Linked DNA regions of Homo sapiens. The protein of the gene in region 2 purifies or fractionates together with the protein of the main gene of each other region. This does not show direct contact. Each region holds a gene or a part of one and is shown on either strand. Other genes may lie near its edges. The genes, in order: TOR1AIP1, ATG4C and PLXDC2.

The links.
Region 1: the proteins of ATG4C (region 2) and TOR1AIP1 purify together in Homo sapiens (affinity purification with mass spectrometry; one large-scale study listed by BioGRID and IntAct). This does not show direct contact.
Region 3: the proteins of ATG4C (region 2) and PLXDC2 purify together in Homo sapiens (affinity purification with mass spectrometry; one large-scale study listed by BioGRID and IntAct). This does not show direct contact.

The regions. Positions count from the first base shown.
Region 1 is NC_000001.11:179,888,764-179,892,421, reverse strand, and holds part of TOR1AIP1 (torsin-1A-interacting protein 1), read right to left. Parts: intron 3,113-3,658; coding exon of another isoform or gene 3,110-3,112; coding exon 3,053-3,109; intron 1-3,052. UniProt on the Homo sapiens protein: Required for nuclear membrane integrity. Induces TOR1A and TOR1B ATPase activity and is required for their location on the nuclear membrane. Binds to A- and B-type lamins. Possible role in membrane attachment and assembly of the nuclear lamina.
Region 2 is NC_000001.11:62,787,055-62,790,712, reverse strand, and holds part of ATG4C (cysteine protease ATG4C), read right to left. Parts: intron 1-3,658. UniProt on the Homo sapiens protein: Cysteine protease that plays a key role in autophagy by mediating both proteolytic activation and delipidation of ATG8 family proteins.
Region 3 is NC_000010.11:20,284,931-20,288,588, reverse strand, and holds part of PLXDC2 (plexin domain-containing protein 2 isoform 1 precursor), read right to left. Parts: 3' UTR 1-3,658. UniProt on the Homo sapiens protein: May play a role in tumor angiogenesis.

The DNA.
Region 1 (3,658 bases), about 120 Mb from region 2:
GGCTCACTGCAACCTCTGCATCCTGGGTATAAGTGATTCTCCTGCCTCAGACTCTCAAGCAGCTGGGGTTACAGTGCACAGCACCACCACGCCTGGCTAATTTTGTACTTTTAGTAGAGACGGGGTTTTGCCATGCCAGCCAGGCTGGTCTTGAACTCCTGACCTCAGGTGATCTGCCCACCTCAGCCTCCCAAAGTGCTGGGATTATAGGCGTGAGCCACCACACCCAGCCTAAAAAGCTTTTTTAAGTCTCTAAAGAAGTGGCCTGAACTTAAGTGAAAGATGAATTAGAGGAAGGTACAATGATTTATAAAGAAAAATGAAGCGTTTCCCTTTTGGCTCATCTTCAAATTTAGAAAATAATTAAAATGTAAAAAAAACTAAGTCTAACAACATTCAATGTAGATTCATTTAAAACCACAAATCATGGTATGTCATGTCCTATAGCCAGGCAGACACTGAAATGAATTAAAACCCGTTCAACGAACGTATTACAGCAAAGGACACTGAACTCGCCGTGAACAACGTATCGAATTCACTTTCTAAATGAAGAAAGGGCCAGGTGTGGTGGCTCACGCCTACAATCCCAAAACTCTGGGAGGCCGAGGCAGGTGGATTGCTTGAGGTCAGGAGTTCGAGACCAGCCTGACCAACATGGTGAAACCCCATCTCTACTAAATATACAAAAATTAGCTGGGTGTCATGGTGGTCATCTGTAATCCCAGCTGCTTGAAAGGCTGAGGCAGGAGAATCACTTGAACCAGGGAGGCAGAAGTTGCAGTGGGCCAAGATCACGCCATTGCACTCCAGCCTCGGTGATAGAGCAAGAGCCTGTCTCGAGAAAATAAAAATAAATAAATAAATAAAAATAAAAAATAAAAATAAAAATCAAGGAGAAAGGCCGGGCGTGGTGGCTCATGCCTGTAATCCCAGCACTTTGGGAGGCCAAGTGGGGTAGATCACAAGGTCAGGGAGTTTGAAACCAGCCTGGCCAACATGGTGAAACCCTGTCTCTACTAAAAATACAAAACAAGTAGCTGGGCGTGGTGGTGGGCACCTGTAATCCCAGCTACTTGGGAGGCTGAGGCAGGAGAATTGCTTGAACCTGGGAGGCAGACGTTGCAGTGAGCCGAGATCGCACCACGGTACTACAGCCTGGGTGACAGAGCAAGGCTCTGTCTCAGAAAAACAAAAACAAAAAATAAATCAAGAGAAAAACCTTAATTGGTAAGTTGTTATCTCCTTTTTCCTAATAGTGTGAATTTAATGAAGACTAGCAGGACTAAATTGATTACATGTTTTTATATGAATTTAAGCAATAATATAGGCATAATTATAGACAACAAAAACCAAGGCTGTTTATGGGAGGTCCTAGTCATAGGGACTGGGTCCCCACAAACTGACATAATAAATTAGTATTCTCAAGCCAATGACTAGATATATATACTCTTGTATTCTATTAATCTGGACCCTCAAAGAGACCTTGTAAGAATTAGAGATAGGGTTGGGCGCAGTTGTGCATGCCAATAATCCCAGCACTTTGGGAGGCCAAAGCGGGTGGATTGCTAGAGCCCAGGAATTCGAGACTAGCCTGGGCAACATGGTGAAACCCCATCTCTATAAAAAACACAGGAATCAGCCAGGCATGGTGATGCATGACTGTAGTTCCAGCTACTCCAGAGGCTGAAGTAGGAGGCTCAGTTGAGCCTCCAGAGTAGCTGGGACTACAATAGGAGGAGGAGGCTGCAGTGAGCCAAGATCACGCCACCGCACTCCAGCCTGGGTGAGAGTGAGACCCTGCCTGGAAAAAAAAAAGAATAGAAATAAACGAACATAATTCACTCATTTTAGTATTTCTATTTGTTTTGTATGTCGAATCTGCAAGAGACATAGCAAGAGAATGATTAGGGTTGAAAAGGAAATGCATCATATGGTTCTTTACCACAGGTTCATTAACAAAACCTTAGTAGATCTTTACCACTGGAATACTTAAAAGGATAGTCAACTATCTATCGAAATAAATCAACATCATTCTTTGATAAAGAGAATGGGAAGGTACAGAAGCCTAATATAAAGATAAATACATTTCCTTTTTAGTTCCCATGATAAAGCATCTTTAAGAGCCAAAAAAACAAGGAAAATGAAGTAAAAGTAGACTGCTTGGAGTGTCTTTACTAGTTTTCTTCATAGTCATGAAATCAATTTCAGGGCAATACTTTTAATCGTTTTAGTCAAAAAGATAACTGAGGGAGGGACATTTTGTCGTTCTGTGCCACAGAGCTCCAGCTTGAATTTTTTGTTAGCAGTATACTGGAAGAATAAAGTCCCTGACCATAGTTTAAAATCATCATAAAGAATCACAGGAATATATAAGAAACAATCTCTTTAAAAAAGGAAGCTTTTTATATATGAATATAGAAATATCTCTGTATATATGTTAAGTAAAAATAAACAAGAAAGTGCAGAAAAGTAAGCCAGGTGCCGTGGCTCATGCCTGTAATCCCAGCACTCTGGGAGGCTGAGGTGGGTGGATCACTTACCCAGGCGTTTGAGATCATGTGGGTAACATGGCAAAACCCCATCTCTACAAAAGATACAAAAATCAGCCAGGCGTGGTGGTGGATGCATAGTCTCAGCTACTTGGCAGGCTAAGGCAGGAGGACTGCTTGAGCCAGAGAGATTGAGACTGCAGTCAGCCCTGGTTGTGCCACTGCACTCCAGCCTGGATGACAGAGCGAGATCTTGTCTCAAATTAAAAAAAAAAAAAAAGACAGAAATGAGAGTTTATAAAGCCAAAATTTGTATTATAAAAAGGACAAGATAATTTCATCCATGAATTTCTGTAAATCTCCAAAAAATATAAACTGACAACATTGGTTGCTTTTGATGAAGAGAGACTGGCTGGCTGAATGACAGAGGGGACAGGGAGATTTTTTAATGTATATTTACAGTAACTTTTAAGTTCTGAATCATATGAATACATGTACAACCATATTTAAAAATAAAACTGTATTTATAACAAAGGTAAACCAACAGACAAACAATCTCTTACCATATCTTGGGTATCTTAGAGGGGGTCGACGTAACCTGATTACAAGATCTTCACTCACTGCTAATATAGGAAGAGAAAACATTTAAAAATATATAAAATGTGAAACATACTAGCTTTATTACATGATCATCCCTTATTTATTCAACAAAGGTTTACAGAGCTTTTATTTACGCTAGAGAAGTAGAGACAAGCTTTCTAAGTGACAACTGTTGCGAACTAGTGATGATAGTGAACTAGAGACAAGTTTCCTGCCATATAAAATTTATAGTCTTGATGGAGAAATTTGCATTTTTTCTCAGCAAACCGTAGCTGTAGGAAGGAAAGAAATACTAAATAAAATTCTTCTAAATTGCTCAATTAAGAACCAAAATCTGTATTATGGTACCAACTCAATTATCTATTCCATTTGTGACTGACCCTCATTGTGGATTATTTATGGAATATTTTAATTTTAGGGTTAACATCCTGAGATTCAATACGCTCATTCTATTTAACCTTGTGTTGAAGAAATGCAAATTAATTTTAAATAAAAACATTAATGTGGGCCAGGGTTTATTTTAGACCATCTATAGTTCAATGGCATAGGGATAGCGGAGAAGCCGATCC
Region 2 (3,658 bases):
CCAGCTGATATAACTGTTCTAGAGTTCTCTATAACTATATATTACAAAGTTTTAAATTATGTCACTTTAGTAGTTTTACAGATAACTGATTTTACAAAGAGTATATTAAAAAGTAATTTAGTAGGAACCTAACTATATTTTACATTCATAACATAATCACACAGAAAAAATAATTCAAATAACTTTGAACACCTATTTTGACTATATATACCTTTAGTGGGATATATTCTAAGAACATAAAATGGCAAAGAAATCTTTACTTGGTAAATCTGTTGCTGGAAGCGGTATCAGTCAGTCTAGTAATTCCAAAACTATTTTATGTGTGTTGTAGGATAGGTTAGATGAGTAAAAATAGTGATATAATTGAGAATCAGAATTCTCTCTTTGGGAAAACAGAGATATAAACAGGAATTGGAAGGAAGTGATGAGAACTCTGCAGTGTTGAATTTGAATTGAAGGTATCCTATGAACTCATGATTTCTTAAAAAATGTATATGTTGGCCGGGTACAGTGGCTCACGCCTGTAATCCCAGCACTTTGGGAGGCCGAGGCGGGTGGATTACCGGAGGTCCGGAGTTCGAGACCAGCCTGACAAACATGGAGAAACTCTGTCTCTACTAAAAATACAAAACTAGCTGGGTGTGGTGGCACATATCTGTGATCCCAGCTACTCGGGAGGCTGAGGCAGGAGAATCGCTTGAACCCAGGAGGCAGAGGTTGCGGTGAGCCAAGATCCGCCATTGCACTCCAGCCTGGGCAACAAGAGCAAGACACTGTCTCAAAAAAAAAAAAAGTGTATATGTGTGTCCATTTAAAGGGTCTAGAACCAATGACACCCCAGTAGCAAAGAGCATATTCAATACCCAGATCTTCATTTCTTTTATTTCTTTTTTTTTGAGACGGAGTCTCGCTCTGTCGCCCAGGCTGGAGTGCAGTGGCGCGAACTCGGATCACTCCAAGCTCCGCCTCCCGGGTTTACGCCATTCTCCTGCCTCAGCCTCCCTAGTAACTGGGACTACAGGCGCCCGCCACCACGCCCGGCTCATTTGTTTTTTTATTTTTTAGTAGAGATGGGGTTTCACCGTGTTAGCCAGGATGGTCCCGATCTCCTGACCTCATGATCCACCCGCCTCGGCCTCCCAAAGTGCTGGGATTACAGGCATGAGCCACCACGCCCGGCCCAGATCTTGGTTTCTAAGAATCATTTTCCACTAAAATAAACCAGGACTCTGTGGTAAAATGGCTGATTCCATGTATTGAGCAGGAAATTTACAAGGTGAGGCTGGAACATCTTATTGTGCAAATAGGAGTAAGAAAGTGCTCAAACACCAATGTGGACATATCCAAAGTTCATGGGAACCAGCTTGAAGGATCTACTACTGACCAGATTTGAGATAATTTCATCACCAAAAGGAATGATGGTAGCAAATTATAACGCACTGCATAGATTTTGAAAAAAAGGATACTTGGGTACATAGTGATACTAAAATAAAAAAGAGAAAGCTCTTATTTAGAGAAGAGAGCCAGCAAATACATGTAGGAATGACAGAAGTGGGAAATCACTATTTGGCAACCACCAATGCTTTTATCAATGGCTACTAAAATCACTGGATAGGAAAACAAAACCTGCAAAACAGAATATCCACATGACCTCAATTTATCACCCCTACAGATTACTAAATACAAAAGGGAAAACATACTTTCGGAATATAAAAATCTGGCTAAACTAAGTGATCAAACTTAATCACCAATAATGGAATAAACGATCATGTTAATCCTAATATGATTAAATGGAAAGTTCAAAACATCACCCATGTAATAGTAAAAAAAAGAAAAAAGAAAAAAAAAGAAAAACCCACAACTCTTCAATCTGAAACTCATTGTGAGGAAAAAATCAGATAAATCAATTTTGTGAGGCATTCTACCTGAAGACAAAAAAAGAAAGAAATGATAAAGACTGTTCTAGATAAAATAGACATATAAGTACTAAATACAATTAATGTCTTTAATTGGATTCGGTATTTTTGTAATGGTATAATGACATTACTGGGATATTTGGAAAAATCTAATTGTTGAATATGGACTGCATATTAGACAATATTATCATATCAAGGTTAAATTATTTGGATATGCTAATGGCATTATAGTTATATAAGAGAATGTGCTAGTTCTTAGGAGATGCATGATGAATTATTTGGGGGTAAAGTGTCACGTTGCCACCTTACTTTCAAATAGTTCAGCAAGAAAAAAAGGTGTGTGTGTGTGTGTGTGTGTGTGTGTGTATTTATAGAGAGAGAAACAGCACTTGTCTAACAGCAAGGAATGAGAGCAAAAGAGGCACTATGTTAACAACTAGTGAATCTAGGTAAAAGGATGTACAGGTATTTGTCATACTACCATTTCAATGTTTTTACAGGTTTGAAAGTAAAAAGAAAAAAATAAGGGAAAAAGTAGAAGTTAGGTTGATTTTAGAGCAGCTGATCAGACTTCATAAAGCCTAACTACTCTTCACCCTATTCAATAAGAGCTAAAAGCAAGTTCAAACTTCGAAAAGGTTTGGCTAAAAATAAAGGTAATAATCCTAACAAACAATAAGTAATCACAAACTAATCACCATAAGTTTTCTATCACAGCTGTAAACTACACATAATCTCAGAACTCTGTGAAAGATGTTATGTGCTGGTGTATCTGGGACAATAGTGAATAAGCAAAACTATTTTATATATTTTCTCCAAATCTAAATACCAAATAAATTTTTTTTCTCAAATTGAGTTTTATTAGTTACAAGGTATCCTAAAATTAAAATGGTGTCACAGGAGTCAAGATGATCTTGAACCCAGTATCACTATTATAATAATGATAATAAACACTTAAAATCTGTACCAAGTATTTTATTAACCTATGTATATATATCATTTCATTTAATTCTCACAACAATTCTATAAGGCTGGCACTATTATTATCCTCATCTTATAAATTTAAAAAAAAAAAGGCTTGGAAAAGCTGTATAACTTCTTCAAGGTCATACTGCTAGTATACAGCAAATAGAGACCATGAATCCAGGCAGTCTGACACCAAAGTCTCTTTGCTCTATACACTCTACCACTTTACTAAGAAATGTAAAATTTAAACAATAAACTATAAATCACTACTGTTTGGGTTCAATATCTATCAAAAATTACATGAATGAAGCATTTCAGAGAAAAATCACAAGTATGTATTTTTCCCTAATGCATGTATATTTATGTATGTACCAAATGAATGAAGTTAGAATTTAACCAGATGCCAGTTTACTACCAAATCTCAAGTGAAAATAAAGATGGCATGTAACTGCATTATTCAGTTACCTATTCATATACATGGTTTAATATATTACAGATAGATTCAAAACAGAGACCAACATATTTCCAGATGCTTTCATGTAGAACCCCACCCCTGCTCAATCAAGAAAAAATGATACCAAAAAAACCTATTTTAGGCATAGTATTACTCAAATATACAAAACTACAACAATGACACAAAAGGGTAAAAATAACTAAGAAATTAACCTTAAACACTGCTACCACAACAAAAAATACTAATAAACAAAGCATGTTTCCCAAACCTGGTCCTCTTTCGATGTTCTCTACCTCGGTGAAGGGTGCAACAATCCTTCCAG
Region 3 (3,658 bases), on a different chromosome or scaffold from region 2:
AATCAGGAAGCTTGCAGAAGTATGTAGCATCTCTGAATTATTGAATTTGAACAAAGGTTTCCAATAGAGGTCACACTCTTTTTGCTCTCAGACACCATTAGTGCAGATTCAGATACAATCATTTTTACATTTGCAGGCTCAGGTACGTTCAACAGAAGGTCACCGAGAAGTATGGGCTGGTTATTTTAGCATGACAGAATGCAGGCTTGGAATTTCTCCTTGACATGGCAGAAGAAATAGGAATGATGCCCAGAGGACTGGAATAAATTCAAAATGCTTGGTTTTCCAAGTTCTATTTTAATAAACTTCGGAAAATTAACCTTTCCCTGAAAGACACGTCCTTGGTTTGGCACACAGGGCTTTCCAAAACAGTGAGAAACGAACTGGCCATGTGCTGCACTCACACACATAGTCATTCTTTTTGCTTGGGGTTGACTAGGTTCATAGGGCCAGATTTTCCTCAGTGTCCTCTTGTAGCAGTGCCGCAGTGAGCTTTGTGATTCTGACAAAGGGTGCCATTATATCCACTTTGAAATGCATTACAAATATTCTGCATGCTGGTGCAACTGGCATAAAATCTGGAAAGCCACCGCCCCCCCCCCCTCCCCCGCCGCAAGAAGTGCCCAATTTCTTCTCTTTTCACACTTCAACATTTCAAATGACTACACACAGAATTACCAGAAACAGTAGTAAATTCCTGGCATTCGAAGTTCCCATGATCCCAGCTGGCATATAAAAAAGACTCTCTCCTTTTTTTCCCCTGAAAATAATGTACTCTCCAGGCACTGTTGAAATGCTTCAAATCAGGCAAATGAGAGATTTGTTTTGACCAATCAATGAAAAGACTTCCCCCTCTTCTCCGTGAGGGCCCCAAGACTGGGTTACGCCATACACAAGATGTCTGTTTCTAAAGAGACTTCACTGATTTCCCTAAAATGATTTTAACATTTCTTTGCAAGTGAAGCTCTGATGTTGCCTAATGTTATTTTCAGAGTAGCCTGCTGCAGGATGCCTAATTTGAGTTTTTATTTCCCTGCTATAAATGTGACAATCTGAGTATGTTTTCATTCAAACCACCTTGAACATGGTGGCTGAGGCTTCACCACAAATGTCCAGAAAATAGCACTGGAGTCTGTCTGAGTCCTGAGATGGTCAAATCTCAGAGAAATCCAGCTCTGGGCCCGGAAAGGAAAGTGCCATCTCTTAACCTTTCCTCAGGAAAATTATTTTATTGATTTTTTTGCCTTATTTTCATGCCTTTTAAGTCAAAGGAAGATAAATGGAAAGTCTCTTTTTGGTCATTCACTAATTCTCTAGGGCAAGTCACATAATTCTCTAGGACAAAGGCCTCCATGATGTTAGGATGAATGCCATAGAAGAGGTATGGGGGGTGATGGCTGCATTTTAGACTAATCATAGGCATATCCTTTGCTTTCTCTATGTCAGGGGTCTCAGCATTGCTTGCAGAATATGTGCCCCAGTGTCTGGATGTCTGAATGACCTAAATTTGAGCTGGTCATCAATGAGTATTTATTAGCACATTGCTCTTAAGAAGTTAATAACTCGGCCAGGCACGGTGGCTCAGGCCTGTAATTCCAGCACTTTGGGAGGCGGAGGTGGGCGGATCACCTGAGGTCGGGAGCTGGGGACCAGCCTGACCAGCATGGAGAAACCCCGTCTCTACTAAAAATACAAAATTAGCCGGCTGTAGTGGCATATGCCTGTAATCCCAGCTACTTGGGCGGCTGAGGCAGGAGAATCGCTTGAACCTGGGAGGCGGAGGTTGCAGTGAGACGAGATCACGCCATTGCACTCCAGCCTGGGTAACAAGAGCAAAACCCCATCTCAAACAACAACTAAAAGAAGTTAATAACTCTGCCTAATAGCACATTTAGATTTTTATTTTTTTTTCCATGAATCATCTCCATTCACTCACTCTTAGGTTTATACTTTCCCCTAAAATTCCCCCATGAAACTTCTAAAATTAGTTTCATGCTATGTATTTGTTTGATAGGCACAGAAGGTTTACAGCTGCATGGTCAGTAAGCGATACTTTGGTCATGAATGTATATATACATATATATTTGCAATGCTGAGAAAAAGAGAGACTGCTGTTAAAAATCAAAATTCTCGTGGAATGAAGAGAAGCCACTGAGATTTTTTTCAACCAGAATGAAAATAAATAAAATATCACTATCTGCCAAATCAAAAGCTTTTATGTTATTCCATTATGAAAGACATTTATTGAGTAATTTGCAAATGTTAATAAGCCTTAGAAACTAGGAAAAGCTGAGTACTAGTTTATGACTTACATTTAATTTTTTTTCCAGCCTTTTATCCTGGGTTTAAAGTAACACAGAATCTTTCAGTGTCAACAGTGAGCTGGAAATTAACCTATAATAACAAGTTTTGAGCATTTTGCTCCTCCAGGCAAAATTTGGTCACTCATAATAAATATATTATGAAGAAGCCAATGATGATGTATTCCATAAACTTGTTATGAAAAACTGACTCCAGAAATTATGTGACTTTACTTGAATAATTACCATTTTACTTCTCTACAATAATCATTGTGAGAGCAGTGGGCATTGGATGGTTGAAAAGTTATTCCAGACAATAATTAGGCAGATGTATTACAATTTAAGTTGAGGCTAGATCAACTTAATCAAAACCTTAAGAAGTAATACCATGTTATGATATGACAATGGTAGAACAGGAAATTATAGACACATTTGAGGCTGGAGTTTTCTGATTTCCCTGATTGTCTTATGTCTGGGATGGTCTAATAAATGACATAACCACCACACACACCTAAAGTGCAAATGCTTTTTTGATACACTGGTGTTTCTGAATACCTCAAAACAGTGATATTAATAATTCAAAACCCAATAGAAATATTGGGTCGAGAAATCAAACTTCAACTGTTGCATCTGGTCAGTAAGACTGCAGTGAACTAGAAAGTATTCTTAGGTCAGGGAGAATTTTGAGTAACTTTTTTTCTCACAGATAAAATTAACAGGTCTACAGCACAGACATGCAGTGATATATTATGTTTCAGACACATTCTTCAGGCAAACAGTTTCTAGTTCCCATTTTAAGTAGAATAGAAAATTGGAGTTGAAAATTGATAGAGTATTGTTGATCCTATCTACTTGTAAAGTCTGGTTTAGGGATGTTATTGTATTATAATGATCGGTTACATGCCTGGACTCTCACTACTGTATATCACAAGTTACTAGCACAGTCACTTGGTTCCAGTAGGTGTTCAATAAATATTTCAGTGAACTGAACAGTTAAATAAATGAACAAATAGGGAGATGAATCAAAGTGCTCTGTAAAATGTAAAATGCTTCACAAACATAAGGTAATAGGAGTATATAAAAGGTAACACCACAGACCTCGCATTATCTGCCCAAAAAACCTTATAAGGACAAAAATGTTGTAATAGTTTGAAGAGCAAATAAAAATTGCAATTATATATGTGGTCAGAAAATCAGCTATATAGATCATTCATTTTCAAATATATTTGGGAAGAAATAAAACAAAGGCAGAAAAATTTTAAATGGCCAAAATAAATTGTATTGCTAACTTAGATGGCCACAGATGGGGGCAGGGGTGGAGAGAGGAGAAATTGAAAACACCACAAAGACCCCGCAAT